Linked DNA regions of Homo sapiens: region 2 is linked to region 1. Evidence: fine-mapped expression QTL. A gene starts in region 1. The other region holds a variant in brackets. All regions are shown on one strand. Distances are from middle to middle.

Region 1 (16,711 bases):
GAAATTTTCTCAGCAAGGCAATTTTACTTCTACAGAAGGGTGCATCTTGTGGATGGAACAATGGTGAGAGCACACCTGAACAAGGGAGGGGAAGGGGTTCTTATCCCTGACACAGGTAGCCCCTACTGTTGCATCGTTCCCCTATTGGCTAGGGTTGGACTGCACAGTCTAAGCTAATTCCGATTGGCTATTTTAAAGACAGCAGGGGTTAAGAGCTACAGTGGTGGGGTGAGCAGTTGTGGCAGGAAAGACGGTTACGGAATAGGTGACTAAAGGTGACTTAGGTTAGAGCGGGTGACCAGGGGTCTCAGGATGGAGCAAGTGACCAGGAGAACAGATGTGAACTACTGATCAGAACTGGCAGGGAGGTTGTTTACTGAAACTAGGGGCAAGGAGATGAAGAGAATGAGGAAGTTAAACTTTAAAATGGAAAACAAAGAACTGAACATACTGACACAGATTCTTTGAGGAGAAACTTAGAACTCACTGTATTTAACAAAATTATGATTGATAGCTTCCCCTCACTTTTTCAAACCAGACAAGCCTTGTTTAAAATAAGGCATCAGTAAACGTCCAGGTTTTTGCAGTCTTTTCGACATTTCACAAATGTGTGAAGAGAGTAGGCATCTTTATGAAACCACCTTTGCAAAAACTGTATCAGTGAGAAAAATTATTATAGTAAACTGAGCTAACCCACCTATCTTGCCTTTCCCTTAATTATTCCTGGGCTATAGGGCTGAGCTAACTTTGGAAGACATTTACGCTATAGTTTAAATAACAGGCTTTGCCCAAAACTCAATTGTTTTTGTAAAGCTAATGGGAGGCCATCAGTCTGGGAGGAGAGGAGTCTGGGTCCTGCTAAGGTGGCAGCATTATTCAACTGTCAGCCATTATTCCAAAGGTTATAGGATATGCAACTTTCCCAATTACTACTACAAATGACATCACTACTGTAGAACCTCAGATTGGCCTTTTGAGATATCTTTTCAGGTTTTTTCATGTCTGACACCCATGGCTCCACCTGGACCTGATGGTTCCACTTGGACTAACCAACCCAGTTCCTGTGGCACCACCCAGAAGCAATTCACCCCACACAAGGAGAGCTTTGACCCCCTATGATTTCATCTCCAGCCCAACGAATCAGCAGCAAGCACCTGTTATCTGGCCACTCCCACCCCTTCCCCCAAAGTGACTTTGAAAAACCTCTAAGATAAGAGCTTTGGATTAGATGATTTGAGTACGAACTCCATTTCCCATGTGGCGTGGCCAGCCTCATGTCTATTAACCTCTTTCTCTACTACAATGCCATGGTCTTTCTTTATGCAGTGGGCAGGAAGAACCCCTTGGGCGGTGGTAACATTTTTTATTTTTAGCCGTTATCTCTTAAGCTTCTCCTTTTGGCACAACCTTCTACAAAGCTTGGTAAGAGTCACTAAGTAAACTTTGATTTGCTTAAAAACCACATTTATTCTTTGTTTCAGGTGAGCAGCAACTGTTTGGGCTGGTGGCACAGAGGTAAAAGAACTTACCAAGACAGCTGTGGGTGAAGAAAGGCAGATTTATTAAAGACAGTATCAAAGTATGTTATCAGGGAGCAACAGGCAGAATCAGTGGAAGAGGAGCTGACTGCAAGGAAACAAAGGCTTGCTGGAGATTTTATAGGATGGTTCCTGGGCTGATTGATAATGCCAAGGCAGCAGGGAGCTGACCTGCATTCTTCTGTCACCCGAGGTGTTTGATGATAAGTGGATGCGTGCGTTTGATGATAAGCAGGAAGTTTGTGAGTTACGTTCATTATTTGCTCGGCAGGGCTGTATGTCCTGGGTCATAAAGAAAAGCAAGCCTATAGCTTATCTGCTTCCTTTTTTTGTTTATATATCCTGGACCATGAAGAAAATGCAGATCTATAGCTTATTTGCTTTATCTCTTTGCTTTCCCCTGGTCCCACCAGCCTGACTCCTTTTCCCTACGTACGAATCCACATTCTTCCTAAACAGGTAATCAGCAGACGTATGTCTACCTAGCACACCCAAGTTTAACATAATTATCTAAATGCAAAATCTTGAGGAATAAAGATAAAAAACCCTCTAGCAGGCACAGCGGCTCATGCCTGTAATCCCAAGTGACATAGGAGTTAAAAAGAAATTATTTAGGCAGATAGTGAGGGTAAGGAAATCCCCGGTAAGGTTTTCCTTTTAATGAAAAGCAGCCCCCAAGTCATTTCTTTTCTAACAAACAGCAGCCTGAAAAATCAAGCTGCAGACATAGATAAGCAAGCTGGAAGTTTGCACGGGTGAATGCCAGCAGCTGTGCCAATAGGAAAAAGCTACCTGGGGGCCAGGCATGTCCAACATCGCAGCTCCATCTTCCCTTTTCTTTGTCAACCACGTGTACAGCAAGGAACATACAACATGGCCCGGTCAGACAGGGACTCCATCTGCATAATAAAAGATTAGGGTGGGGCAGCCAGCTTCTGATTGGCACACCTGGTCCAACCAATCTTTGGGGCCTACGTAAATCAGACACCACCTCCTGAAGCCAGTCTATAAACCCCGTGCCCTTCGCCACGGACTGGAAGTCCTACTTGGGAGCCCTTTTCTCTCTGCAGGAGCTAGAGCTATTCTCTTTTCTCTTTCGCCTATTAAACCTCCGCTCTTAAACTCACTTCTTGTGTGTCCACGTCCTTGATTCCCTTGGCGTGAGACAACGAACCTCAGGTATTTACCCCAGACAATGATGCAGCTTCACCATCATTTTGCAAGGCTGAAGCAAGACGATCACTTGAGCTCCGGAGTTCAAGACCAGCCTGGGCAATACAGTGAGGCTCCCATCTCTACAGAAAAAAAAAAAGAAAAGAAAAATTAGCTGGTGTGGTGGTACGCACCTGTGTTCTCAGCTACTTGGGAGGCTGAGGTAGGAGGATCGCTTAAGCCCAGGAAGTTGAGGCTGCAGTAAGCCGTTTGTGCCACTGTGGCAAGCCAGATCTCACAAAAACTGAACAGGCAGGCCTCCATAAGAACTGTTCTAGCATTGACTAAATGGTTAGGTTAAATATTAAAGGCTGAGAGAGCCAGCGCCCTAACACAAAGGCTGATGATTTGAAGCATGACAAAATAATGAAGGAATGGTCACACTCCTCATACCAGGATCCATTTAGGATTAAACAAGTTTTATTGGGGGTCTAAAGGAACTCTCCAGACCTCCATAACTTAGTAGGAGACAAGATAAGGTAATTACCTTTGGCACTTGGACCCATCTAGAGTAAGTAAAATCACTGAGGCTCCAGAGGAATGTCCCCAAGGTCTATAACTCAGACCTTAGTTATAGATTAGAAGAAATTAATCACTTGTGTCTTTAGATGAATGCACACTAACATGTAGACATATAGCTTAGAAGGTAGATAAGCACTGGAAAACTTTGTAATTTTGAGTTGGTCTGGCAATATTTTTCTGGCCCTCTCCCTGTACCCGGTTACAGAAATAAAACTCTCTTCTTTCACAGTTCATCAGCATCTTGTTATAGGGCTGCGAGAATAAGCAGCCTGACCTTCAGTTCAGTCCAGGAACACCACTGCACACCAGCTTGGGTGACAGAGTGAGACCTTGTCTCTTAAAAAAAAAAGTCCTCAGAGAGAGGCCACATGTATTTTGTCCTCAGTTGTCACAAGGAAGATGCAATACATTTATTTTTCTCCTGGATTAGTACTGCAGAAAAGCCTTTTATCCTTTTTCTTTTTTGGCTATGGATGTCCAGTTGCTCCAGCACTGTTTGTTGAAAAGGTTATACTTCCTCCGTGGAAATTTATTATTATTATAATGCACAGATTTTAGGTCAGAAAAATTGGGGGAGGTGCCCAAGGTCACTCAGGGAGTAAGTAGCTAAGATTGGGTTAGAACCCACTTTGTTGTGTGATTCCTTGCTTGGATTACTATGCACAACAGAATATGGCCCACCTCCCCACAGTTGATCTCATTCAAGTGATAATGGGTGATCCTGAAACAGAAGGAATCTGGCAGAAGCACGGATATGGCTGGGGATAACAGGAGAGGGAGCTGCTGGAGTAACTCTGTGGGCGGCAAGCCACCCAGGTGCCAAGGCAAGAGACCGAGGACACGAGCTGTTCCAGTATAATAAAATATAAAACAAGAATAGTTATACCAGATATAGATCTTAGATATGATTATATATGAATATCATTAATCATTAGTTGGTAGCAATTACTCTTTATTCCAAATTATAATAATCCTCACTCTATAATCATAACCTGGGAAAAGCCAGGCCATATAGAGATAGGAGCTGAGGAGACATAGTGAGAAGTGACCAGAAGACAAGAGTGCGAGCCTTCTGTTATGCCCAGACAGGGCCACCAGAGGGCTCCTTGGTCTAGCGGTGATGCCAGCATCTGGGAAGATGCCCGTTGCCAAGCGGACCGTGGTCTAGCAGTAGTGTTAGTGTCAAGGAAAAACACCTGCTACGTAGCGGACCGGGAAAGGGAGTCTCCCTTTCCCCGGGGGAGTTTAGAGAAGACTCTACTCCTCCACCACTTGTGGAGGGCCTCAGGCCCACCTGCAGTTATCCGGAGGCCTAACCGTCTCCCTGTGATGCTGTGCTTCAGTGGTCACGCTCCTAGTCCACCTTCATGTTCCATCCTGTACACCTGGCTCTGCCGTTTAGTTAGCAGTAGCAAACCAGTGAAAGTACTAAGTCTCTAATAAGTAGAAATAATGGTGTAAGCTCTCTCTCTCTTTCTCCTCTCTCTCTCTGCCTCGGCTGCCAGGCAGGAAAGGGCCCCCTGTCCAGTGGACATGTGACCCATGTGGCCTTACCTATCATTGGAGATGGCTCACACTCCTTATCCTGCCCCTTTGTCTTGTATCCAATAAATATCAGCGCAGCCTGGCATTCGGGGCCACTACCAGTCTCCGCGTCTTGGTGGTAGTGGTCCCCTGGGCCCAGCTGTCTTTTCTTTTATCTCTGTCTTGCGTCTTTATTTCTACAATCTCTCGTCTCCGCACACGGGGAGAAACCAACCGACCCTGTGGGGCTGGACCCTACAAACTCTGCATGTGCTTTGGCACAGGAATGTGTACTGGGAAGTGGCTGACAAAAGACCTATGGATTCCATGGAATGGAGAGGCTAGCTCAGAGCATTCTCATACTCTTAAAAGGAAGAAACTGGAAGCCACCCTCTAAGACGACCCTGAATGATCCCTGCCTCCTAGTACTTATACTCTTGTGTAGCCTCCACCTACTTAGACTCACAGCTGATTTTGTGACCAAGAGTATAATGGTGTATGACTTCAGAGGCTTGGTTCAGAGTCAGAAGTGGCCATTTCATCATCCTCTAAATTTCTCTTTGGCAGATTAATGAATGTGAGAAAGTAAAAATGGTATAGAAGAAAGTTAGCCTGAGAGATGGCTGGCTTTGTACCTGTTTGGTCTTTTTCCTTCCTTTCCTCCATAAGCAAATACTGACGCATGTACATATAGACACACTCAACACAGTGGGATGTTAAAGGGAAACTAGAGCCACTCGCCCCTTCCCAAGATCAGAGAACATAGGAAAGATGATGACTTTTTGCATCTACCCTCTCCTCTTGAACTCGCAACACTGTCTTGAACCACAAATAAGGTCAAGTAGGATAAATCTACAACTGTCTCCTCAACTGTCCGCTCACAAGTGTGAAATTCAACCATCCTTGCTGAAGTTGTCTTTTAATATCAGTAATCAGCAATAACCAACCTCTGAGCTTTGCTTATATTATTAAATCATTTTATTTGACCCTCAGGACAAAGCTGCAAGCCCAGCATTACATTCTTCCTTTTATGGACAAAAAAAAAAAAACAAAACAAAACCGAGATAGGCACGAAGAAACTAATAAATGGCTGAAATGCTATTTGAATCCACATCTGTCTAATTCTAAAAGTGTGCTTTCCACCACATCACCGCACCTACAAGGAAAATGCAGCCTCTACCCTCTCCTGAAGAATGTGTAAAGAGGCAATATGGTGTGTTTTGGAAAAAGCATCTTTGCAGAAAGAAAGCATTAGCTTCAGTCATATTAGCATCCTTATCCAGCAGCAGTAGCATTATTTTACATATCAGTTACTCCTCCCCAACAACTCAATGAATTAGATGCCACAATCATCCTCACTTTCAAATGTGGAGACCGAGGCACATCTCTAAGACTGGAGTTCAGGCATTCTGGCTCCAGTCTTAGAGATGGTTAAGGGTTCACACTCTTAACCATTTATTACACCATAGAGCTCACCAGGTTTGAGGGAAACAGGATCAAATCAAAAGAGTCACTCAGGACTCCAGTCCTCACTCAAGGACAAACTGTTCCACCTCGGACAGGGAGAGTTTCCGCATTCTGAGACCCAGCATAACAGGTCCTGACCGGCATCTGGCACTCGGACTCCCAATCATACTGGATCACACTGGCTCGGGATGTGTAAAGTCCAGGGCTTCTCACATTTGATGACACCAAAGCCGCCTAAAAACAAGAGAGAATTAACAACTACCTACGGCGGTCTGATATTTGCCCAAGAGATGCCGCCCCATAAAACTCCTTTACATCTTTATAACGTTTTTATTTTGCGTTCTCCTTCATAACCCACATTTAACTCACCATAGATGTAATGTTTAAAATTAGTTACCAGATAAACTCTTACGCTTCCAAACTTTAAGGTTCCTTCGAAACCTTCTGGTAAAACTGTTGTTCCACGGAAATGGGAACGTAACGGATGAGGCAATCTTCCACAGCCGCACACAGTTGTGTATCCACCGCTAAACGGTCCCAGTCATACATTCAACGACCCACGCGGAGTCAGAAGCTACCACCACACACTGTCAAAATCACGCACACACAGTGACGGCCCCTTGCCCACTCGGTCACTCGCCCACAATCTCTCGCTAGAGAATCACACGCAGATAGCACACCCAGCACCACAGACCCCAGGAAGCAACCCAGGGACTCGAACACACGAACAGCACTCCTCCGCGCACTGCGCAGGCACGCCTGCGTCCGGCTCACCCTGAAACATCGCGAGATCCGGCTTCAAGGCCGGGCTGCTGCCTTTACGCCTAAAGACTATGTTTCCCGGAAGACACTGCGGCGCCGGCCCTATCATGGCGCAGCATCGGTGTGCTTTGTGCGTCTGCGCCATCTTCCGGCTGCGCACGGCGAATCCACCGGTACCGTGGTGGAAGCGCGCCCTGGGCTGCCGGGGGCGCGGCCGCGGTGGCACTTGGACCCGAGGAGGCGGCAGGTGAGAGGTTCCGGAGCTTTCCAGGCGCTCTGGGGTCCAGCAGGAGCTGGTGCCCGGGCCGGTTGGGTCTCAGGCCTGAGAAGAACGCAGACGTCTCGCCTCATCGTCGCTCTGTGGCTTTACCGGCGTGAGACTACATTTCCCGCCGGCCCTCGCGGCGTGCGCTTTCTGGCGCCCCCTTTCTGCTTCCAGCCTCATAGCCCAGGTGCATGGACCCCTTAGGTGGGTGCGCAGGGGTCTCCGACCCCCTGAAATTGCGGATGTTTTGCATTCACTGTTATGCGTGCCTTTTTTTTTTTTTAATCTGAGAGGAAATCTTGTTTCATGAGGTTCTCAGAGAGTTACAAGACCCCAGAAGACTTAGAACCGCTAGTTTAGAAAAACTTATACTTGGGAACATTTTATATGTTCAAATTCTATGTCCAGCAATGGGGAAACACTTGAGTGGATCACAGGCCATCCTTTGTAAATAGGATATCGTGCAGTTAATACAAATAATGCTTATAAAAGTGGTCATAATAAGGAAAAGCTGCCTATTACATCATATTAAGCAACATTCATAATTATTTCACTTACACGTTACTTAGAACCAAATGTTTGTAATGCAGTAGGCACCTTATATACTCCTTTACAGAGTACTTCTTGTTTAACAGTGAGCTCAAGAACTGGTTAAATGACAACACTGCGAATACTTGGGTGTTTTTTCTTCCAATTTTTTTGTTTTGTTTTGTTTTTAGCCTGTGTGTTAGTGAGTTTGACTTCTTTTTGCTGAATGTTCTCAAAGGATTCAGTAGTTAATATCTTTGCTTGTCAGTTTTTGATAGTCATTTTTGATAGTCACTTGGCATCCCATTATATGGCTGTGCCAAAAATGATTCAACCTCTTGGCTACTTGTGGACTTGCCTACTTACGTACTAATTTTCAGTTCTCCTATTTAGCAAATATTATTGGACATGCAGCTTTGTGCACTGCTGTGTCTCTATGGAAGGACACATTTATGTGCTGATAATGGAGCACTGGGCGTGCTGTGTGTAATTTGTCTCTTACTGTTCCTTCCAACTCTATCCCATTTGTTGATGCAAGGCATGCTCCATGAAGTGGCATGCACAAAGCCTCAGTTTGGGCTGTAGAGCTTTTTGTATATTTGGCGGTTGGGAAAAGAGCCAGGTAGACTTTCAAAGGTGTTATATTTGCTGCAGGAGAGAGTTAAATGGCCTAGTCCTGGAAAGGCTTTATTCTAGGCTGGGGCTATGCAAATGATGCAGGCCTTCTATGCTCCCTGGCTTGAGGGAAGCCCTCCTTGTCCTTGAGGTAACATGTGGGTCTCAGTCACTAGAACAGCCCTCAGCATCCCTGTCTTAGACTTGCATTTGCAGCAAAACAGAACCACTGGATGTTTAGGGGAAATGGGAGGGAAAGGACCACTGGTTCCCCTTTGCCTTGCAGCAGCTAAAGCTGGTTTCCTGGGGTTGGGTGAGGATCCCTTTGCCTCCCCCTCCTTCTCATTTTCTTGGTGGGCAGAGGGCAAGCAGGTGGGGACTTGTAACTTGGCATTCTAGGAACTGTGAGGCAAGCCTAGCCTCTCATGTTTGCTCTTTCCTCCCCCAGCTCTACCGTCGCAGGACTCTGCCCTTCCCCAAGAGAGGAACCAGAAGGAGGACCTATCAGCCCTTGAAATTCTAAAAGTCATGTCCCTTGTGAGTTTTTAAATCCCATAAATATTTGCTTTCCTTATCTTGAAACTTTCCACCTGGGTTCCATCCAGAAATTTGGTTCTCAGACTTTCCCATTTTAGGGAATAAAAGGACCAGGCAGGAGTCTCCTCTCCCATTGTCCTCTCCCCTCTGACAAATGCCCACAGATTTATTCTCTATAGCATTCTGCATCTCCTGATGGTTTTCGTCTGCTAGGAGGAGAAACTCATTTCCCTGTATGAAATGAGAGCATCCTTTGTAAGAACTGAAGTTTGAAGAGATGGAATGAATGCTTAGGAGCAATCACATATAGAAAAGCAGGGGAGGTGGTGTTGGTTGGTTTCAGTTTCAGCGCATGGTACAGTGTCCTGCTTTGGGAATGATTAATGATTGGATATGTAATTGAGGTTTGGCTGGGAATCCATCAAAAATTTGATGCCAGAATTAAAGTCTAGTTTGACGTTGGACAGAGCATTTGAATCTGGGACATCCTCCATTAGTTTCTTTAGCTTAAGAGGAAGAAAAGTACAGAGCTGAGGATGGTGAGCGATGTAGCAAGTGAGATGATCATCTAGGTGGGTGAGTGGTCAGGGCTTGGAAAAGCCTTAGAGATCTGATCCAACCTCGGGATCCAAAATAAGAGGATGTTTGAGTCAGTTGTTTCACTTGATAGAAAATTGTGCACTCAATAAAAGTTATCTCCATGGTTTTTCCCATGAAGAAAAATGCTTGTGTTATGTTCCAACATAATGATGAACTTTCATCTCCAAGAAATTCTTGACTTACATGAAAATCCTGTATCTAAGATAGAAAACATGTTTCCATAATTTTAAAAAATAAAATATTTGGGGAAAATCCATCAGAAATATTTTTTGTTGTTATTGTTATTCCAAAAGATAGAAGTGATAGGTCTCACCTTGAGAATTTATTGTATGCCAAGTATAGAGTGGGCAGTGTGCTTTATTACACTGTTTCTTAACAATAAGGAAAACTCCATTTAGCTTGATTTTAATTTTCATCCCAGACCTGTACACAGAGCATTGATTTGCAGTTAAAAGGAATGTTTGAGAACAATTTGATCATTCTGTTTTACTCATCCCCATTTCTTCTGTCACCTTTCACATTCAGTCCCACCCTTCTTGTTCAACAAAACAACCCCCCCTCCCGCAAAGACCTGCCCCATCTCCTTTCATCCCACTGTGAACCATTGAAATACATATATATCATACATGCCTGTCATTCCAGGGGTCAGAATTGTTCAGGGATGTGGCCATAGTCTTCTCCCAAGAAGAATGGCAGTGGTTGGCACCTGCTCAGAGGGATTTGTACAGAGACGTGATGTTGGAGACCTACAGCAACCTGGTCTCACTGGGTAAGGTGATCTCGTCTGTTAGTTTGGAGGTTATCCTTGGGCATGTTCCTTCCTGGTCAGTTTTTGGGTGCTTTTCAGTCTTATGATTGGTTGGTCATTTTTGAGGGGTTAAAGGGCGGCGCTGTCGGCTGAAGCTGCATCCCCCTACCCCCAGGCAACTGTCCCATCTTCCTCTGGCACTTCCTGCAACTGCCTCTCCTGCTTGATGACCAGGTCCTGGATCTGAATTCTGGGGCCCCCACACCATAACCAGGTGGCATGTTTCTTCTCATCTCCAGGTCTTGCCGTTTCCAAACCTGATGTGATCTCCTTCCTAGAGCAAGGCAAAGAGCCCTGGATGGTGGAGAGAGTGGTGTCTGGAGGCCTGTGTCCAGGTGAGTGAGGTATCATTGGGAAGGGAGCAGCCACTGCAGGTATCAGGTCCGCTGGAAGTGGCCCTTTGTCTTAGAAGATCTTCCCTGCAGGTTGCTACCTTCAAAGCTTATGTCTTACGTGTTGTTTTCCTCAGCTCGTCAGCAGCATTTGACAAAGGTGGCTGCTCCTTCCTCCTGAAACACTTTAAAAATTCAACCTGGATTATAGGGCTAGACTGAGTACAAATATGGTGGTTCCTAAGGAAAGTATTTTGTCTTTGGAAAGATGTCTGTATCTTTTGACCATTTTTCTTTTTTTATTAATTTTAATTTTAATATTTAAAATTTTTTTTAACTTCAGGAGTATAAGTGCAGGTTTGTTAAATAGGTAAACTTGTGTCATGGGGGTTTGTTTACAGATTATTTCATCACCCAGGTATTAAGCCTAGTACTCATTAGTTACTGTTCCTGATTCTCTCCCTCCGCCCAACCTTCCATTCTCTGAAAGGCCCATGTGTGTTGTCCCGCTCTGTGTGTCCATGTGTCCTCATTTAGCTCCCACTTATAAGTGAGAACATGCAGTATTTGGTTTTCCGTTCCTGTGTTAGTTTGCTTAGGATAATGGCTTCCAGCTCCATCCATGTCCCTGCAAAGGACATGATCTTGTCCTTTGACCATTTTTCTAAAGGAATTTGTATCGGTTTGTTTGAATTCTGGAGTCAGTTAACAAGTACTTATTAAGCTTTTATTATGCACCATGGAATATGCCACAGTATACATTGATGAGGCAGGTGGACATTATCCTTGCTTTCATGGAACTTACACTGCAGTGGGAAAATAGACATGAAATCATACACACTGGACATGAGCTAATATGTGAAAGAAAAAGAACAGGTTCAGTCAGGGTGCATGGTAGGGCCAATGGCCTCTTCAAGGATAAGGCATTTCAGCTGAGACATGGAAGGTGTGATGTAGCTGGGGAATACCAGTTGTAGCCAATGAGTGTGAAGGACCTGAGCAGGGAGCCCTTGGTACCTCTGAGATAATGGATGGCCCTTGTGGCTGAGGTCAGTGAGCAAAGGGAGGAACACAGAGATACACTAGGGGCCGGGCATGGTGGCTCATGCTTATAATCCCAGCACTTTGGGAGGCTGAGGCGGCCAAATCACTTGACCAGTCTGGCCAACATGGTGAAACCTCGTCCCGACTAAAATCACAAAAATTAGCCGGGTGTGGTGGCACGTGCCTATAATCCCAGCTACTTGGGAGGCTGAAGCAGGAGAATCGCTTGAACACGGGAGGCGGAGATTGCAGTGATCCGAGATCGAACCACTGCGCTCCAGCTGGGGCAACAGAGAGAGACTCTGTCTCAAAAAGAAAAAAAAAGATACGCTAGGAAAGGCAACCACGTTATGAAGTTTGGGTTCTGCACTGTGGGCAGAGGGAAAGCACTGTAGAAATAGAGGCAAGCCATGATTTTATGGTCCACCTGGAGAGGATATAAATATTGTGCTTCTCACAAATTATTCACCTGCTAGTTTCAGAAGTCATTGATAGTTTTCTCTTGGATCAGATATGATTAATAGTTACAAAATAGTGATTTTTAAAAAAACTTTATTCTTATTTATTAGATCACATACTCCTGTAAAGAAGAGCTTTCTCCCTTTCACCATTTGTTTCTTCATTTATATCATATGGATTAATAGTAGGTGGCATATTTTTTCTCATTTCCAGGTCAGAATAAAATAAATCTTGTTTTATCCTGTAACAGATTATTACCCATTATCATTATTTATCACAACGTTCATAGTTTTCCAGACTTGCCCAGTGACACCCTTTCAAACTGGCTCCTGGGTTCTTTGGACATAATCCCCCCCCCCTTTTTTTATAAGCACGTTTTTAACTTTTTTAGTTTCAACAATTCAGTAAAAGCTAGTTAACATAAATACAGAAGAAGTCCACACAATTGACATCCGTGTACATAAATGCAAGAATGCCAAACCTCACATGAACCAAAAAGTATCAGCTCTTACAATGTTGACTATTTAGCTATGACTAGTAGGTCATAAATCTTCGCATAAGCAAGGGTACACATTCAAATGTTTTTTAAAACTAAGAATAAAACAATTTTATGTTTCTAAAAGGAGAAGCATAAAAGTCAATCTGTCGAAGAACATAAGGATGTGATAGAAAAGAGATTTGCGTGGGCACAAAGTTAATACACTGTGTTAATACTTTTACATATTAAAATCCCTCTGCAGCCAGGCGTAATAACTCATGCCTGTAGTCCCAGCTACTCAGAAGGCTGACAGAGGAGAATCACCTGAGCCTAGGAGTTTGAGGTTGTAGTATAATATGATTGTGCCTCTGCACTCCAGCCTGGGCAACAGAATGAGACCCCATCTCCCCTGCAAAAAAGAAAGAGAAAGAGAAATACTTTGGAGGCAAACTTTATATAGAACGTTTGTATATAGTTTTTTTTTAAGTCATCAGTGTCATACTTAAACTAAAATGCAGATTGTGTTTTTGTCTCCAAACTGATTGTAATACTTTTGAGTCCAATCAAAACACCTCAGAAACATCCAGTTACTGTTGATTACAATAAATGTGACATGCTGACAGAATTTAAGAAGGTACAGTTTTTCACTGGTGAGAGCAGTAAAAGCTTGGTAATTTTCAATAATGTTGGGATCACTACAGTGAATAGATCTGCAGAACAACATATCTAAAACCCAGACAAATGTTAGGAATACTGGTTCTGTTGAATAAATGACCAATGTTTTTATAGAAATACGTAACATAGAATTCCCTCCTGCTCTTTCACCCTCAATAAATGCTATAAAGTGCATTCACAAAGAGCCATATTAAGATAAAGCTACTGCACAAAATACAGCACTCATATATACTGAAATGAGTAGTATCACACTGGAGTTTAATTGTGCACATTTTATATACCAGTATAGCAACATCCTTAGCCAGAAGTCTCAACAGAATTATCATGAACATAAACGTTTAAGGGTTATATACATATATCAATTTAAAGTATGAAAAGGTGCATTTGAACTTCATGGCAACATTTAAAAATGATATCCTTGTTAGCACATCACCTTGAATCTATGATGTATGATTCAGCAAATTAGGACAGAATCAAATTCTCAGCAAAAAGTACTTTGAGGCTGGGGATGGTGGCTCACGCCTGTAATCCCAGCACTTTGGGAGGCCAAGGCAGGCGGATTGCTTGAGCCCAGGAGTTTGAGACCAGCCTGGGCAATATGGCGAAACCCCATCTTTACAAAAAAGCACAAAAATTAGCTGAGCATGGTGGTGCCCACCTGTAGTCAAGCTATATCTGAGTCTCTTTAAGTCAACTGGGGTTGGTTGCTATAAGTACAGTAAAACCTGCCACTGTAGCTGAAATAATGTACCAGGTAGAATCACAGTCCATTATAGCATTCAGCTTTTTCATGCAGTTTGAATAATCAGCAAAGTATGTTGCTCTAGAAGGACCCACCCTCAATCAACTGGCCTAATCCTCTAAACAAGGAAAAAAGCCCTTCTTTTTCCAAGGTCACCTTTAAGAAATGAAAAGGTTCAGGTAAATGCATGACATTTAAGAAATTTAAGAAATGTCATTCAGTTGATAATGGGCTTCAGCCATGGCGTTCAACTAAACTTCAGATATAAAAAACACCATGGTGTTCAGCTAAACTTCAGATATAAAAAGCTTCACAGAGGAAGACAGCAGCCATGTCATTCTAACTTCTAGCGGACACATGAGAATAGCTGCCACTGTACCAGCATATTCCTCTGGTTCATTCTCCTGCATGTCCTCCAGGCACTGAGGCAGGTTGCAGATCCAACCACACACTTCCAACACCACTTTTATTTTTATTTTTTAAAACTGTGGTAAAATACAAGATTTACCGTGCTCACCATTTTCAAGTGTACAGTTCAGTAGTGTTAAGTACATTCACACTGTTGTACAACCATCATCACCGTCCATCTCCGGAACTCTTTTCATCTTGAAATCCCCATCATCTTTTTAAAATTCACTCTTTTGGGGGCATAATTTATGGTCAATAAAATGCATTTTTAAAATGTGCTATTAATGAGTGTTGACAAATTTATACACCCACATAACCATCACCTCAATCAAGATAGCGAACATTTCCATCAACCCAAAAAGTTCCCTTGTGCTCCCTCCTGCACAGTCCGTCAAACCAATGATTTGCTTTGGTTTCTGTCACTCTATATTTGTCTTTTCTAGAGTCTCACAGAAACATTTACTGTCTTAAAAAATATTGTTCAATAGTGATTCTGACCCACACCAACTCTTTTTTTTTTTTTTTTAAAGTCTCCCTCTGTCACCCAAGTTGGAGTGCATTGGCGTGATCATAGCTCTCTACAGCCTCTAACTCCTGGGCTTAAGCAGTCTTCTTTTCTCAGCTGGGACTACAGGCATGTGCCACTGCAGCTGGCTAATTTTTAAAAATTATTTTGTAGACATGGGGTCTTGCTGTGTTGCTGAAGCTGGTCTCAAACTCCTGGCCTCAAGTGATTCTCCCTTCTTGGCTTCCCAAAGCACTGGGATTACAGGCATGAGCCACCATGCCCAGCCCCACACTAACATTTTAGAATCACTTTTATAACCTCTCTTATTGCCTCCCTCATCTCATGTATGTTATTTTCCTTTCACTGTTCTACTTGTCCATTTTATAATTGCTTAGCTACATTCAAGAGTTAATAGGCATTGAGTCTAAACCCTCCAGTTCTTATTTTAGTTCCTTTATCTGGAAAAAAAAAGAAGCCAAACATATTCGCTTTTTTTCATTCTTAGTATTGGAGTCCAGATATGATACCAAGGAATTATTTCCAAAGCAGCATGTTTATGAAGTCGAATCACCCCAATGGGAGATAATGGAAAGCCTTACAAGTTATGGTCTTGAGTGTTCAAGTTTCCAAGATGATTGGGAATGCAGAAACCAGTTTGACAGACAACAGGGAAATCCAGACAGACATTTCCATCAGATGATCATCAGACATGAAGAAATGCCCACTTTTGACCAGCATGCATCCCTTACTTTTTATCAGAAAATTCATACTAGAGAAAAACCTTTTGGGTATAATAAATGTAGAAAAGACTTCTGGCAAAAGGAACTCCTTATTAATCATCAAGGAATTTATACTAATGAGAAACCCTATAAATGTAAGGAATGTGGGAAGGCCTTTAAATATGGCTCACGACTAATTCAACATGAGAATATTCATTCTGGTAAGAAACCATATGAATGTAAGGAATGTGGAAAGGCCTTCAATTCTGGTTCAAATTTTATACAACATCAGAGAGTTCATACTGGTGAGAAACCGTATGAATGTAAAGATTGTGAGAAGGCCTTTAGTCGAAGCTCACAGTTGATTGAACATCAGCGAACTCACACAGGCGAGAAACCCTATCAGTGTAAGGAATGTGGCAAGGCCTTCAATCGGATCTCACATCTTAAAGTACATTATAGAATTCATACTGGTGAAAAACCCTATGCATGCAAGGAATGTGGGAAAACCTTTAGTCATCGTTCTCAGTTGATTCAACATCAGACTGTTCATACTGGCAGGAAACTCTATGAATGTAAGGAATGTGGGAAGGCTTTTAATCAAGGCTCAACTCTTATACGACATCAGAGAATTCATACCGGTGAGAAACCCTATGAGTGCAAAGTATGTGGAAAGGCCTTTAGAGTGAGCTCACAACTCAAGCAACATCAGAGAATTCACACTGGAGAGAAACCCTACCAATGTAAGGTATGTGGTAGGGCCTTCAAACGGGTCTCACATCTTACTGTACATTACAGAATTCATACAGGTGAAAAGCCATATGAATGTAAGGAATGTGGGAAGGCTTTTAGTCATTGCTCACAATTGATTCATCATCAGGTTATTCACACTGAGAAAAAGCCCTATGAATATAAGGAATGTGAGAAGACCTTGAGTCATGATTCAACTACCGTTCAACCTCAGAGAA
Region 2 (16,711 bases), 600 kb after region 1:
TGCTCTCTTTTTTATGGCTGCATAGTATTCCATGGTATATATGTATCACGTTTATCCAATCTTGTTGCTAGGCATTAGGTTGATTGCATGTCTTTGCTATTGTGAATAGTGCTGCATTGAACATTCATGTGCATGTATCTTTTTGGTAGAATAACTTGTATTCCTTTGGGTATATACCCAGTAATGGGATTGCTGGGTCAAATGGTAGTTCTGCTTTTAGCTCTTTGAGGAATCACTACACTGCTTTCCGCAATGGTCGAATTAATTTACACTCCCACCAACAGTGGGAACATCCTTGCCAGCATCTGTTTTATTTATACACACACACACATATATATATATACATAATTTGTTTTTCGAGGTGGAGTCTTGCTCTGTCACCCAGGCTAGGGTGCAGTGGCACAATCTCGGCTCACTGCAACCTCCACTTCCCAGGTTCAAGTGATTGTTCTGCCTCAGCCTCCTGAGTAGCTGGGATTACAGACATGCACCACCAAGCTGGCTAATTTTTTGTATTTTTGGTAGAGACGGGGTTTCACCATGTTGGCCAGACTGGTTTCAAACTCCTGACCTCAAGTGATCCACCCACCTTGGCCTCCCAAAGTGCTAGGATTACAGGCATGAGCCTCCACGCCCAGCCTGTTATTTTTTGATTCTTAAATCGTAGCCATTCTGACTGGTGTAAGATGGTATCTCGTGGTTTTGATTTGCTTTTCTCTAATGATCAGTGACATTGAGCTTGTTTTCATATGCTTGTTGTCTGCATGTATGTCACCTTCTGAAAACTGTCTGTTATACCCTTTGCCCACTTTTTAATGAGGTTATCTTTTTCTTGTAAATTTAAGTTCCTTATAGATGCGGGTATTAGACGTTTGTCAGATGCATTGTTTGCAAAGGTTTTCTCCCATTCTGCAGGTTGACTGTTTGCTCTGATAGTTTCTTTTGCTGTACAGAAGCACTTCTGTTTAATTACTTCCCATTTGTCATTTTTTGCTTTTGTTGCAATTGTTCTTGGTATCTTCATGATGAAATCTTTGCCCATTCCTATGTCCAGAATGGTATTGCCTAGTTTTTGTTTTGTTTTGTTTGTTTTTGTTTTTATAACGGAATCTTGCTCTGTTCCCCAGTACAGTGGCATGATCTCGGCTCACTGCAACCTCCGCCTCCCAGGTTCAAGTGCTTCTCCTGCCTCAGCCTCCCAAGTAGTTGAGACTACAGGCACCCGCCACCACGCCCAGCTAATTTTTGTGTTTTTAGTAGAGGCAGGGTTTCACTATGTTGGCCAGGCTGGTCTTGAACTCCTGACCTTGTGATCTGCCCATCTGAGTCTCCCAAAGTGCTGGGATTACAGGCATGAGTCACTGTGCCCAGCGCCTCCAAGTTTTTAATAGTTTTGCACTTCATTTTGTCTGTAATCCATCTTGAGTTGGTTTTTGTATGTGGTGTGAAGAAGGCATTCAGTTTCAGTCTTCTGCATATGACTAGCCAGTTACCCCAGCACCATTTATTGAAAAGGGAGTCTTTTCTCCACTGCTTGTCTTTGTCAGCTTTGTTGAAGATCAGACGGTTGTAGTTGTGTGGCCTCATTTCTGGGTTCTCTATTCTGTTCTGTTGGTCTATGTGTCTGTTTTTGTACCAGTACCATGCTGTTTTGGTTATCATAGCCCTATAGTATAGTTGGAAATCAGGTAGCGTGATGCCTCCAGCTTTGTTCTTTTTGCTTAGGATTGATTGTCTTGGGTATTGGGGCTCTTTTTTTGTTCTATATGAACTTTAAATAGTTCTTCTAGTTTCTGTGAAGAATGCCATTGGTAATTTCATAGGAATAGCATTGAATCTGTAAATTGCTTTGGGCAGTATGGCCATTTTAACAATATTGATTCTTCTCTCCATGAGCATGGAATGTTTTTTCCATTTGTTTGTGTCATCTGATCTCTTTGAGCAGTGTTTTGTAATTCTCCTTTTGATCTTTCACCTCTCTGGTTAGCTGTATTCCTAGGTATTCTTTGTGAGCAATTGTGGATAGAATTACATTTCCGATTTGGCTCTCAGCTTGGCTGTCGTTGGTGTATAGGAATGCTAGTGATTTTTGTACATTGATTTTATTTTTTTCTTTTTGTATCCTGAAACTTTTGCAGTTTATCAGCTGAAGATTTGGGGCTGAGACTATGGGGTTTTCTGGATATGGAATCATGTCATCTGCAAACAGTGATAGTTTGACTTCTTCTCTTCCTATTTGGATGCCATTTATTTCTTCCTCTTGCCTGATTGCTCTGGCTGGGACTGCTGAAACGGAGTAATTTACATGTGGTTGATTGTGTGGCTATTATCAGCCATCAGCATATTTTGTCTTTTGCTCTCAGTGTAGAAAAACATGGTTAAACTTGTGCATGTGGATGTATCTTAATATCTTTGTGCATGTGGATGTATTCTTAGTATCCGGCTTGTGGGTCCCACTTAAGAAAGGTCATGAGGTGAACACACCATAAAGACCCAGGGGATTACTTCAAAGTCAACAGGCTGACCTTGGAATTAGCAATAGTCTTCTGACCTGACTAGAAATTTAAGATCGAGAGCCATGTGTGAGGATGTAATCCACTGAGAATCTTTGTTACAGGATGAAGTGAGGCAGGCAGGAGAAATTGTGGAGAAGATGTTCAGACCTTCACTAGTGCTTTCCTGCTATTATGTCTTCCACAGGTTGTCCTATGTCTCGACTGCTTCTGGTTTTGAAGACTTACTCAAGGCTTTGGCTCGTAATCGGAGCCTGACATACCTGAGTATCAACTGTACGTCCATTTCCCTAAATATGTTTTCACTTCTGCATGACATCCTGCACGAGCCCACATGCCAAATAAGTCATCTGAGGTGAGTTGTTGCTCGGCTGAAAGCTCAGTGCATGTGAGGGGAATGCCTGGGTGTTGGTGGATAGAGGTGCCCCTTCAATAACACTACCTGCTCCTACCTTTTGATGTCACTCATTCCTCAATTTTTTTAGCACGTGGTTTGTTTCTTTCACCAACATTATTCCTGCCTTTTGATTTCAATTTCTACATTGATATTTCATATAACATGGCTTCTCCCTCCCTTGACTGATATTTCTCTAATGATCTAATTCCTCTGGTCATTCTGAAGTAGACTACTGGTCAAACCCTAAAACACTGTCTAGTGGAAATTATTCAAGCCACAAACTGAAATTTTCCAGTAGCCACATTAAAAAGTAAAAGGAAGCAAGTGAAACTAATTTTTTTTTTTTTTTTGAGATGGAGTTTCGCCCTTGTTGCCCAGGCTAGAGTGCAGTGGCACAGTCTCAGCTCACCGCAACCTCTGACTTCCAGGTTCAAGTGATTCTTTTGCCTCAGCCTCCCAAGTAGCTGGGATTTCAGGTATGTGCCACCATGCCCAGCTAATTTTGTATATTTAGTAGAGACAGGGTTTCTCCATGTTGGTCAGGCTTGTCTCAAACTCCCAACCTCAGGTGATCCACAGGCCTCAGCCTCCCAAAGTGCTGAGATTACAGGTGTGAGCCACTGTGCCCAGCCTTGAAACTAATTTTAACAGTATTTAACCCAGCATATCAAATTATATCCATATGTCATTAATGCAAAAAGCTATTGATGTGATTTTATATTCCCTTTTTTGTAAAAGGCTGCAGAACCCAGTATTTCACAGAGAACATCGCCGCTCGGGCACATTTTCATCAGAAATGTTTGACCTCCGTATTGATTTCATAAAATTTACAATTGAGAGAACTAATTCACATGCCCGTGTCCTAAACATACTTAAATCTTCCAATAATTTGGAATCAACCTTTAAATTTAAACTAGCCAAGCCTGGTAGCTCATGCCTATAATCCCAGCGCTTTGGGAGGCAGAGGATGTGGATCACTTGAGGTCAGGAATTCAAGAGTTCGAGACCAGCCTGGCCAACATAGTGAAACTCTACCTCTACTAAAAATACAAAAATTAGCCAGGCATGGTAGCAGGTGCCTGTAATCCCAGCTATGCGAGAGGGTGAAGCAAGATAATCGCTTGAACCCAGGAGGCAGATGTTGCAGTGAGCTGAGATGGCGCCGCTGCACGTTCCAGCCTGGGCAACAAGAGCAAAACTCCATCTCAATAAATAAATAAATGAATAATAAATTCCAATGTAAATGTAGTAAAACTAACAATCCAGTGCCTCAGTCATGCTAGCCACGCTTTGAGTGCTCAGTAGCTCTACTTGCTGGTGACTCAATATTGGATAATACCACTTGCTAGACTTCATCTCCAATAAGTACATTTCGCTTGTACTCTCAATTTCAAGTACCTCATGCTCTAACGGCACCTCCTGTATTCTCAAGCTGCTTTGTCTTGTAAGCAAATCTTCCCACCCTTTAATCCTACTGCGTCCTTCAGCCATTTGAGCAGCAGCTTCCCACCCTTTCACCCCCTTCATCCCTTTCTTTTTGTTTTTGTTTTCATTTTTGTTTTGAGACAGAGTTTCACTCTTTTTGCCCTGGCTGGAGTGCAGTGGTGTGATCTCAGCTCACTAAAACCTCCGCCTCCCGGGTTTAAGCGATTCTCCTGCCTCAGCCTCCCGAGTAGCTGGCATTACAAGAGCTTGCCACCACGTATGGCTAATTTTTGTGTTTTTAGTAGAGATGGGGTTTCACCATGTTGGCCAGGCTGGTCTCCCACCCACCTCAGCCTCCCAAAGTGCTGGAAGCCACTGCACCCAGCCCCTCACTTTCTTTCTGACATAGTTCAAATTCCATGGTTCTTGAGAGTCATTGCCTTCCACCTCACTCAGCATCCCTTCTCCCTATCACATTCTCCCAGCTAAATCCCAACTCTGTTGCCACTTTGTAGTTAGCCTCTCCCCTACCTCAATGCCCCCCTCCCCAAACTCCTTTCATCTTGGAACACATTTTCCTCTTGGCCTTTGGTTTTTCCCAAACCTTGATTATTCCTCCTCAGTCATCTTTACTTGTTTTTCATCTTCCTGGACTCTTATCTTTGGGATATTTCCAAGTGGTTCTAAATGTCTTTTCTATACCCCTTCTATGAGTTCTTATTCATGGCATTAAGTAGCCTCTATGTGATGAAGACTCTTAGGTACTTATTTACAAACATTTCTCCTGGTTTCAGACTCAGTGAAGTATTTGTAGAGATATCAACTTTGATATTTATTTATGAGACAAAGTCTTGCTGTCACCTAGGCTGGAGTCCAGTGGGGTGATCTCGGCTCACTTCAACCTCTGCCTCCCGGGTTCAAGCAATTTTCATGCCTCACCCTCCCAAGTAGCTGGGACCACAGGGGTACACCACCACACCCAGCTAACTTTTATATTTTTGGTAGAGACAGGGTTTTGCCATGTCAGCTAGGCTGGTCTCAAACTCCTGACCTCACGTGATCTGCCCACCTCAGCCTCTTACTTTGATATTTAAATAGGCATTTCAAATACAGATTTTCTTGTGGCCTGGCTTAGACAAATTTTCTAGGTCTGTTGTTAGAGTGGATCCATCTGACTCCTTCCTGCTTCCTTTACTGCTAAGCATGATAGACCAACCCATCTCCCACCTATCTGCAGTACTTCAGCATCTTCCTACCTGTCCACACCTTTGCTTGCTACATGGAAAAGAGTGTAGAAGGGCAACTTTCATCTAGTTTGGATTGTTTTGTTTTCCGGTGTGTGTGTGTGTGTGAGTGTGTGTGTGTGTGTTTGAAGCAAAACATAGCTTTATTTTTTGATATATCAGTTTTACTACAAGGGTAGACTTAACTCTTTTTAGTTTACTTTTAGCTTCAGGGATGCGTGTTCAGGTTTGTTACACAGGTAAACTTGTGTCATGGGAGTTAGTGCAGATTATTTCATCACCCACGTACTAAGCCTAGTACCTCATAGATATTTTTATTTTTTCTGATCCTATCCTCTGAATCTCAGCCCTCAAGTCGGCCCCAGTGTGTATTGTTCCCCTCTATGTGTCCATGTGTTCTCATCATTTAGCTCCCATCTGTAAGTGAGAACATGTGGTATTTGGTTTTCTGTCCTTATGTTAGTTTGCTAAGGATAATGGCAATCTAAGTCAGATCTTGTGACTCTGTCCTTTTAATCTTCAGGCCCTCAACGGCTTTCACTTTCATTCCAAATAGAATACACAGGCCAACGCGACGGCTCACGCCTGGAATCCCAACACTTTGGGAGGCCGAGGCGGGCAGATCACCTGAGGTAAGGCGTTCCAGACAGCCTGACCAACATGGCGAAACCTCGTCTCTACTAAAAATGCAAAATTATCCAAGTATGATGGCGCATGCCTGTAATCCCAGCTACTCGGGAGTCTCAGGCAGGAGAATCACTTGAACCTGGGAGGCGGAGGTTGCGGTGAGCCGAGATCACACCATTGCACTCCACCAGCCTGGGTGACAAGGGCAAAACTCCATCTCAAAAAAAAAAAAAATAATAATAATATAGAATACACCATTTCACGCTGGGTGGCCCTGGCTAACCCTCTCCCCATCTCCTGTTTATGTACCGTGCTGCGGCTGCACTGTTTGTTGTAGATGTTTAAAACACCAAACCTGCTCCTGCTTCTGACTCTTTCCACTCATTTCCTCTGACAGAAATTCCCTTGTCCTAGAGATTCAGAGCTTGCCCTCTTCTCTCAAGTTTCTGTTAAAATTCTTCTACCTTATTTAAGTCAGAGCTTCTGACTCTTCTGTCCTCTAATCTTCAAACCCTCAAGGGCTTCCATTTCATTCAAAATAGAATACACAGGCCAAGTACGATGGCTCAGTGAGAGTCTTCGCTCAGTGCCTGCCCCATAAGGAAGTAGAATACATCCTTTTCTTTCTCTATGACCTACTCTGATTTACTTTCTATAAAGAACTGATCATCTACTAGGCACATGATACATTCAGCCCTGTCTTTACAATGCTAGAATTCCATCGTATTTCTTCCAGTTTTCTGCTGTATCCCAGGAACTTCATACAATGCCTGAAAATAACAATATTTGTTAGTTGAAAGATGGTTATTATTCAAAATCCTCATTGAAGAAGAGAATATTGAGTGACAAGTTGAAGAAAGTGAGACAGCAAACCATGCAGCTATCTGGGGAAAGATCACTTATTTTTATTCTACTTATTTTATTTATTTTTTTTTAGAGATGCGTCTTGCTCAGTTGTCCAGGCTGAAGTGCATTGGTATGATCATAGCTCACTGCAGCCTCGAACTCCTGAGTTCAAGTGATCCGCCCACCTCAGTCTCCCAAGTAGCTGGGACTATAGTCGTGCACCACCACTCCTGGATAATTTAAGGAAAAAAACTTTTTTTAAAAAATAGGGTCCCATGGGGAAAATCACTAAGTAGAGATAAGGGTACTAGACACTAAAGCAAAAATATGCTTGTGGACTTGAGGGAGAGTGAGGAGATCAGGGAGGATGGTACAGAATGAGTAATGAATAGAAAGTTAGACCGGACACAGTGGCTCATGCCTGTAATCGCAGCACTTTGGGAGGCCGAGGCGGGTGGATCCCCTGAGGCCGGGAGTTCAAGACCAGCCTGGCCAACATGGTGAAACCTGGTGTCTACTAAAAATACAAACATTAGCCGGGTGTGGTAACGCATGCCTGTAATCCCAGCTACTCGGGAGGCCGAGGCAGGAGAATCGCTTAAAAACCCGGGAGGCAGAGGTTGCAGTGAGCCGAGATCGCACCATTGCACTCCAGCCTGGGCGACAGAGCAAGACTCCATCTCAAAAAAAAAAAGAAAATAGAGATAGTTGAGAGCCAGAGCATGTGGGGCACCCAAGGCTATGCAGAAAAAACATCAGAAGTCCTTGTAAATGTGATGGTAAGTTGAGGGTCTTGATCAGATTTATAAATGTGATCGTACCCACATCCCATGGTCAGGTGGGATGCTTGATACCTGACTTACCGTTCTGAACCATCACCCTGGAAACCACATGGAGATGAATGCAAAAGAGGAAGGAACTGCCTGCTCACAGCCCTTCGTGAATCTGTAACCTTGCCCAAATTTGAACTCTGAGGAGTGGCATAGGGAGAAGAAAGGTTAGAAGCAAAGGGATCTATTTATTTCCAAGTAGACATCATCGCACTTGGTTAGGTCTCTCTTTTTTTTTTTTTTTAATTTAAAAGAGGGGATAGCTTAAACGCGGGAGCCTCTTTTCATTTCTGAATTCCTCTTACAGCTTGATGAAATGTGATTTGCGAGCCAGCGAATGTGAAGAAATCGCCTCTCTCCTCATCAGTGGCGGGAGTCTGAGAAAACTGACCTTATCCAGCAATCCGCTGAGGAGCGACGGGATGAACATACTGTGTGATGCCTTGCTTCATCCCAACTGCACTCTTATATCACTGGTGTAAGTTGGCTTAGACGAGCTCACCACGTAGAAGCTCAGACTGACTTGAATATCTAAGCACATGATCAAAGAGCAGTGGTGGGGAAAGGGACAGCAAAGCAAAGCAGCCGAAAGCACAGTCTTTGGAGTTCAGTAGGTCTGGGTTAATACTCTGGGTTGACAGCTGATTTGCGAAACGTTGGCAAAAATGTTTCTGGATTTTTTTTCAACTTGTATTTCTCAATCTGGACAGTGGAGTCATAACATGACCAAACATACATCTTTGGAGATAAGAGTTAAAAATGGTGGTCACGGCCGGACGCGGTGGCTCACGCCTGTAATTCCAGTACTTTGGGAGGCCGAGGCAGGCGGATCACAAGGTCAGGAGTTCAAGACCAGCCTGGCCAACACAGTGAAACCCTGTCTCTACTAAAAATACAAAAATTAGCCGGGCGTGGTGGCGGGTACCTGTAGTCCCAGCTGCTTGAGAGGCTGAGGCAAGAGACTTGCTTGAACCCGGGAGGCGGAGGTTGCAGTGAACCGAGATTGTGCCACTGCACTCCAGCCTGGGTGACAGAGCGAGGCTCTGTCTCAAAAAAAATAAAAAATAAAAAATGGTGGTCACAACATTCTAAACACAGCACCTAGGCCATAGCAACTGACTTTCTAAGAGCAGGGAACCTATATTGTTCTCACAGTGAACACGTGAACTGGGTGTCGTGTAGGATGAGATGTGACTGAGAACACAAAGACGAAAGCAAAGGAAAGGTTTGGTGCTAGATTGCCTTGAAATAGGATTTTTTCCCCTGAGTCTCCTTTCAAGAAGGTGGAAGACGGGCTCTCCCTGTATGTAACCGACTGTGGGTTACTCGTAGGTAAGCTCTGTCTGCTCTGGGAAAGTGGCTAGAAAGGCAGACTTCCGGAAGGTTGGGGCATGGCAAACACGATGAAAGATGGCAAAAAAGTGGCAAAAGTGAGGCATAAAGGTACAAAAATGAAGGGCGGAGATCTGTAAAACATGGTCAGAAAACAAAACAGTAAGTAGCTCGGTGTATTTAAGGACATGATTCCCCGTTCACAATTCCAAATTCCAAAAAGACAAAAGAATGCAGTAGGTCATCTTGTTTTTTTGTTTCGCCCATTTTTGGCTCCCTTTAGCTCCTTT[C/T]GCCCCCTTTTTAGGACTTGCTAGATTCCAAAACATAATACAAACTGATATAATATTCTTTATATTCTTTATATTTTCTGTAAAAAATACTTGTTTGATTGCAGGATAACACCAGAAACTCCTGTTCATATTATGTAATATCGCATTATGTATGCTTTTATTTATTTTTTTTTTTTGAGACGGAGTCTCGCTGTATTGCCCAGGCTGGAGTGCGGTGGCGCGATCTCGGCTCACTGCAAGCTCCGCCTCCCGGGTTCACGCCATTCTCCTGCCTCAGCCTCCCGAGTAGCTGGGACCACAGGCACCCGCCACCACGCCTGGCTAATTTTTTGTATTTTTAGTAGAGACGGGGTTTCACCGTGTCAGCCAGGATGGTCTCGATCTCCTGACCTCGTGATCCACCCACTTCAGCCTCCCAAGGTGCTGGGATTACAGATGTGAGCCACTGTGTCCAGCCATGTCTTTAAAATCTCAAATTGTTCTAAGATCCATGTGGCCCCAGATAAATCCAGTAAGTAATTGTCAATATGAGCTAATTTTGTTGTAAAAGAAGGTCTCATGAAAAAAGGGACAGACCATTGGTTCAATAATCAGACTCCAAATAGATATTTTTTTCATCTCATATCTACAAGTTTTTTGTTTCCTGCTAGATTTTTTCTTTTTTTCTTTTCCCACTGGTTCCAGGTATAATTTACATATCAGAAAATTCATCCACTTAAGGTACACATTCGATGTTTTTTATGCATATTTAGAGTTGTACAACACTACAATATAATTTTAGAACATTTTTATCACCTTAGATTGTTGGCATGGAGTTTTTCGTAGTTCATACCTGTATTTAAAATAATCCAGATATACTAAGCAAAAAATATTTGTTTTGGTAACTTATTTTAAATAGGCAAGGAATTTCTAAGCCTAAGAACGTGAAAGAAATCACAGTAGTCTGAGGAAAACACCTGTAAAAGGCCAAATTTATGGTCGTGACCAAATCTGACAGCTGGAAAATAGTATGCAAATGAGTTGATAGTGCTGGTTTCTACGAGGACAACAGGGAACTTCTCTAGCTCATTCTTAGTCTTAACTTTTACTTGTACATATAATTTAAAATAAGCACGCATTAGTATACAAAGGAAAACCTAGCCCATTTCACGTGTCAAACCCAAATTAAAATAACTACATATACATTTTCCGATCATTTTAAAGCACAAAAATCATTCTAAGCTTGCAGCTGTGCAAAAGCAGGGAGGGGCCAGGTTTGGTGTGCTGCCAGCCTCTGGTCTAGTGTACCCTTTTCCCATACCAGAGCCAAGATTCAGTATTTCCAACCAATAAATTGGTTGTTTTCAACTTTTTTTTTTTTTTTTTTTTTTTTTTTTTTTGGAGACAGTCACCCAGGCTGGAGTGCAGTGGTGCAATCTCGGCTCACTTCAACCTCCACCTCTCCGGTTCAGGCAGTTCTCCTGCCTCAGCCTCCCAAGTAGTTGGGACTACAGGTGCACACCACTATGCCGGCTAATTTTTGTATTTTTAGCAGAGACGGGGTTTCACCATGTTGACCAGGCTAGTCTCGAAGTCCTGAACTCAGGTGATCTTCCTGTCTCCCCCTCCCAAGGTGCCAGGATTACAGGTGTGAACCACCGTGCCCGGCCTATTTCCAACTTTTTAACCCCTTCCCTGTTTAGGAAAAAAGTGCAGCTCACTGCCAGTGCAGTATTCCCAGGGCAAACAGAAAACGGGTTAAAAAAAATAGAGATTCGGCCGGGTGTGGTGGCTCACGCCTATAATTCCGGCACTTTGGGAGGCCAAGGCAGGCGGATCACTTGAGCCCAGGAGTTCAAGACCAGCCTGGGCAACACAGTGAGACCCCCATCTCTATTTTTAAAAATTATTTAAAAATAAATAATGGAAAAAAAAATAGAGGCTGGAAATCCAGATTAGGATTGAGTAAACTTCCACATATTGGCAACGAGCTAAACCTGGACAGACAAAACGGGATACCACAAAATGGGCTAACAACAGGGCTTCTGGTGTGCCGTCTGTCTCCACTTTTTCCCAGTTTAAAAAAATCTTCAACAGTTCCTGTATTCACTTATAAATAATAAAGTAACTCTTTCAAAGTGAGTTTTTAAACTGAAAATCCTAGGATTCAATTTAGCCAAATATACTTTATCAAACGATGGGAGAAACCAAGTTCCAGAAGTAACGTCTATAAGATTATTCCGTTAGTAGAAGTTGGAGTTAGATTTTTCTCATGCCCTGTTCTGCATCATCCATTCTGTATTTCAGCCTCTGCACTATTTGGGGTACTTCTAATCTCCTTTTCCAAATAAGAAAGTCATTGGTAGAGATTTGGGGCAATGGCAGTAGAAGGCATCGAGGCGCCCGTGGGCGTGGGGTGGGTGGTCTCAGGTGCTCCCCTCTCTGGTGCTCACACTGTCACTGACTCACTCTTCTCTGTGTGCAGGTTAGTCTTCTGCTGTCTCACTGAAAATTGCTGCAGCGCCCTTGGAAGAGTGCTTCTGTTCAGCCCAACTCTAAGACAACTAGACCTGTGTGTGAATCGCTTAAAAAATTACGGAGTGTTGCATGTGACGTTTCCCTTGCTGTTTCCAACCTGTCAGTTAGAGGAGCTTCAGTAAGTCTCCCACAGTTGTCCTGGATGACTGTGTTTCTACTGCATGAGGGCTTGGGTGGTGGGGTTGGTGGCAGGGATAAGATTCCAGTGATGGCATCATGGGTGATAGGGGTACGGGAGCATGGGCTCCCCAGAATAGGCGACATGAAAGCACGGTAAGATTCATTGGCAAAACCTTTTAGCTCAGAAGGAGCAGAGTTCACAAAATCCCTCAGATCCTTATCACATGGAGAAGGGTGCCTGGGCCGGACCCCTCCCCCTGCCCCGGGTGGACATAGCATGGGAAAATGCCACAGGAGAAGGGACCCAAAGATCCTGCCCTGGCCTGGCTTGCAATTTCTGAGGCAGTGAATATCTTTTGGGGTTGGCGATCATGGGGGCATCTTTCTGTTGGGAAATAGCTTTATTGGAAAAGGGATGCATTGGGGGAGGTGGCCATATCCAAGCCACTGGTACCTACCAAAGACATCTAATTTAGGCATGATGCAATGGCCTCTGATTGAACTTCCAGGAAAAAATATGTAACAAGCCACTACAGTTTTTTGAGTGTGCCTCATCAATGATGCTGAATAATCAAACTTCTCGTATTTTCTCAGAAGTAGTGATTCTCCCACTTGCCTGAAAAAAAAATTGTTTAAAAAATGCCTTGGAGTTGTTTAATTTGAACTCTCTTGAAAATGTTCTATTTCAAATGCCTTTTTTTGGGCTCAGAAATATAAGAAACTGATAACCTAAAAGCATCTCCTGTTCATAAAATAGCAACACTATGGCTTGTGAGCTCCTGAACTGAAGTGCTTACTGGACTGTATAAGAATATGCTCAGCAGTATGGTATCTTATCTTTATTTCTGTCTTGTAGTTATAAGTTAAATCCATGTTACCATTGTAATTTGGTACAAATGGGCAGGTAAAATAGGAAATTGTAGGGATATCTTTTCTTTCTAGAATCTTGCTTCCTTTGACAAGGCAGTTTAGGGAAAGCTGCCTTGGGGAAAATAATATAACTCACCCTCCCTTTTTTTCATGGCCCTTAGTTTGTACTTAGTAGGTTGAGACAAATTCACTCATACTGTAGAATAGGGGTTAGAAACCTTTTTCTATAACAGGCTAGACAGTAAATACTCTGGGCTTTGTGGGCCATAATGTCCCTGTCATAACTATTTTTAAGTCTCCCATAGCTGAAGAGAGGCCATGAAAAATGTCAAATGGGTGTGGCTATGTTCCAATAAAACTTTATAAATAAAAAACAAAGTTGTCTAGATTTGGCTCTCAGACCATAGTTTGAACCTTGCTGTAGACTCCAAACACGTTCTTTTGTCATCCTTCAAGAATTGTCTTAAGTATAACTGTCCATTTTGTCTATCACCTACCCAAAGCTGGATAGGGACCTCCTCTATGAGCTCCCATAGGGCACATGGAAGCCCACATTATTGATCACCCTTTATTTTCCTCTAAGTTTGAAAGCATGGATGTGGTTGGCACATCATTAACTCTCTATATATTTTACCGACAGGGTTTTGCTATATTGCCCGGGCCAGTCTCAGACTGCTGGGCTCAAGTGATCCTTCTGTCTCAGCCTCCTGAGTAGCTAGGACTACAGGAATGCACCACCCAACTTTTATAACTACTAAATGAAAAATAGGATCTTCTGGAATCTGCTTTAATATGATTATTCAGTATTTAATATACATTCTATAACAAAGAATATATGTTAAGTGTCAGGCACTCCTCTAGGTGGCTGGGATACATCAGTGAACAGAATAAATATCCATGTATTAATGGATCTTGTATTGGCACTGGGGGAGATAGGAAATAAAACATAAGAAACTTATGTATTGTTAGACCAGAGGTCAGCAAACTGTATCACCCAGGCGCCAAATCTGGCCCTCTGCCTGGTTTTATAAAGATCTTACTGGAACACAGCCATTCATCTACATGTGTTTCATGCATGCATTTGTGCTGCAGTGGCAAAACTGAGTAGTTGTGACAGAGGCACCATGGCCGGTGAAGCCTAAACTATTATCTGGCCCCTTATAGAGAAAGGCCGTCAACTCCTGTATCAGGCAGTAAAAACTGCTATGGAAACTTTTTTAATTCAATCCTAAGGGCACGTAATCAGGAGTGCTGAGGGTAGGGTATGGCCATCTCTAAGCAAGGTCAATGTCACCTCATTGACAAGGGGACATTTGAGCAAAGACTTGGAGAAGGTTGTGGATGGAGTCATACAGATCACTAGAGTGGCGCTTGCAAGCAGAATGAATAGTCGGTGCAGAGCTGTTAACAGAGAAACAGCCAACTGTGCTCGAGAATCAACACGAAGGCCAACGTGGTGAGGCAATGAAGTAGGATTGTAGGAGTAGATAATGGGGGAGACGTGAATGGAAAAACAAGGTGGCAGGTCACATGGGAGAACACGGACAATCGTGAGTACGTTGCTTGCTTTGAGAAAGGACCATTTGGTAAAATCCTCTTTATAGAAAGAATGTATTTAGCCCTTCTCGATGTTGGATTTTGACATGAGTACTGAAAGGCAGAAACGTGAATGTCAGAGGAGGTTGCCTAACATAATTCTTCAGAATCCAAGCTCAGTATTGCAACGGTGTAGGTTGAATGTATGTGGCTTCCCGGGACAAAAATGCTTAAAACATTCTGGCCTCAGTTTCCTTGTTTGTAAAACCAGGATAAGAGCCCTGTGATCATTGTGAGTTTAATGTGCATTAGGAGTTTTGAACAATGCCTGGTATGTTGTAAGTGACCTGTAGATGTTAACACTGCTCTTGTTTCTGTAAGCAGTCCCTTATTCATGAATGTCACAAGACGGGTCCAAGAATGCTTAACACTCTGTGAAATAAATCTTTGGAGACAGGTGGTCATGACTCTAGCTCATGTTTCTGTTTTGCAGTCTGTCTGGCTGTTTCTTTAGCAGCGATATCTGTCAATATATTGCCATAGTTATTGCTACTAATGAAAAACTGAGGAGCCTGGAGATTGGGAGCAACAAAATAGAAGATGCAGGAATGCAGCTGCTATGTGGTGGTTTGAGACATCCCAACTGCATGTTGGTGAATATTGGGTAGGTGCCTGGTGGAGAAAGATCCCTGCCTTTAGCTAGCAACAGCTGAAGAAAAGCACAAGAGGAAGTGGATTGGGAAATACAATACCTCGGACATAATAGTCTAGTGTTTGAAATGGGACTCTTATTGCACAGTCAGTTCTTTTGCCCAAAACTTGGAGGGATCTAGTAGATGTCCAGTTCTCACCCATCTCATCTGCCATTTTTCCTCAAGGATTTGGCCCCACCTTACCTGTGCATCTTCGTTGCAGGCTAGAAGAGTGCATGTTAACCAGTGCCTGCTGTCGATCTCTTGCCTCTGTTCTTACCACCAACAAAACACTAGAAAGACTCAACTTGCTTCAAAATCACTTGGGCAATGATGGAGTTGCAAAACTTCTTGAGAGCTTGATCAGCCCAGATTGTGTACTTAAGGTAGTTGGGTAAGTTGCTTATTTTCCTTGGTGATGGGGAAAATTCTTTTTTTTTTTTTTTTTTTTTTTTTTTTGAGAGACAGAGTCTCACTCTGTTGCCCAGGCTGGAGTGCAGTGGCGTGATCTTGGCTCATTGCAACATCAGCCTCCCAGCTTCAAGCGATTCTCCTTCCTCAGCCTCCTGAGTAGCTGGGACTACAGGCACCCACCACCACACCTGGCTAATTTTTTCTATTTTTAGTAGAGACGGGGTTTCACCATGTTGGCCAGGGTGGTCTCAATCTCCTGACCTCATGATCTGTCCACCTTGGCCTCCCGAAGTGCTGGGATTATAGGCGTGAGCCACCGCGCCTGGCTGTGATGGGGAAAATTCTGTGTTGAGATGGTCTAGGACCTATAAGATGATGATGAGAAACCCTCTTGCCAGTTTCCAATACAAAAAAAAAAAAAAAGTCTTTCCTCTTGGGAGATTGAAAATGTATGCCTCGTTCTTAAAGCAGAGGATGTACTCAATGGTGAGTAAAAGATGACAGTTGATATTATACTTGACGTAGACCAAAAAGGGTTCTACGAATATTTTCTATTTTCTTTCCTCCATTTGGATGTACCCCTCATTACGAGAGAATAAAAATAGGCAATTCTCAGTCTATTTCATGTTTCCAAATCCATTAGATTCCTCTCATAAAAGCAAAAGTTCTCTTCCTTTCTGTGTTACCTAACTGTTGCCAAGTATGTTACCACCAACTTGGATTCAATGACACACTATCTTACAGTCTATGTGAGTGTCAGGACTCCAATCCCAGCTTAGTTGGTCGTCCTTGAGATCTCTCATGAGGCTGCAGCCAAGATGTCATCCAGGGCTAGGGTCAAATCTGAAGGTATGTCTGGGAAAGGAAAAATCAGCCTGCTTCTAAGATCATGTGGTTGTTGGCAGAATTCAGTTCCTGTAGTGCTGTTGGGCTAAGGGTCTTAGTACCTTGAGAGCTGTTGGCTGGAAGAGGCCCTCAGTTATCAGCAAGAAACACTGAAAAGACTTGCTCTCCAACTCTCAAACAGCAACTGTTTGTCAGGTTTTTCAAGGCAATAG

Evidence for each region. PIP is the estimated chance that this variant, and not a neighbour inherited with it, causes the effect.
Region 2: its variant is the best candidate, but not a certain one, in a credible set for the expression of ZNF582-DT in kidney cortex (GTEx, PIP 0.72).

What each region holds. Positions count from the first base shown.
Region 1 is chr19:56,384,003-56,400,713 of GRCh38, reverse strand. ZNF582-DT (ZNF582 divergent transcript) reads right to left here and starts at 7,038. Exons shown (of 2, transcript NR_037160.1): 1 at 6,661-7,038; 2 at 1,539-2,833. ZNF582 (zinc finger protein 582) reads left to right here and starts at 7,180. Exons shown (of 5, transcript NM_001320371.4): 1 at 7,180-7,494; 2 at 8,882-8,970; 3 at 10,213-10,339; 4 at 10,618-10,713; 5 at 15,530-16,711. The coding sequence starts at 8,962. It also overlaps the pseudogene SLC25A36P1. RefSeq lists an enhancer at 15,854-16,711.
Region 2 is chr19:55,787,729-55,804,439 of GRCh38, reverse strand. It overlaps NLRP11 (NLR family pyrin domain containing 11), which reads left to right. Exons shown (of 10, transcript NM_001394894.2): 5 at 2,701-2,868; 6 at 8,190-8,360; 7 at 11,969-12,139; 8 at 15,041-15,211; 9 at 15,463-15,633. Among named protein-coding and RNA genes, the nearest start is that of RFPL4AL1, 27 kb to the right of the region's middle. The variant C/T (reference allele first, on the strand shown) is at 9,505.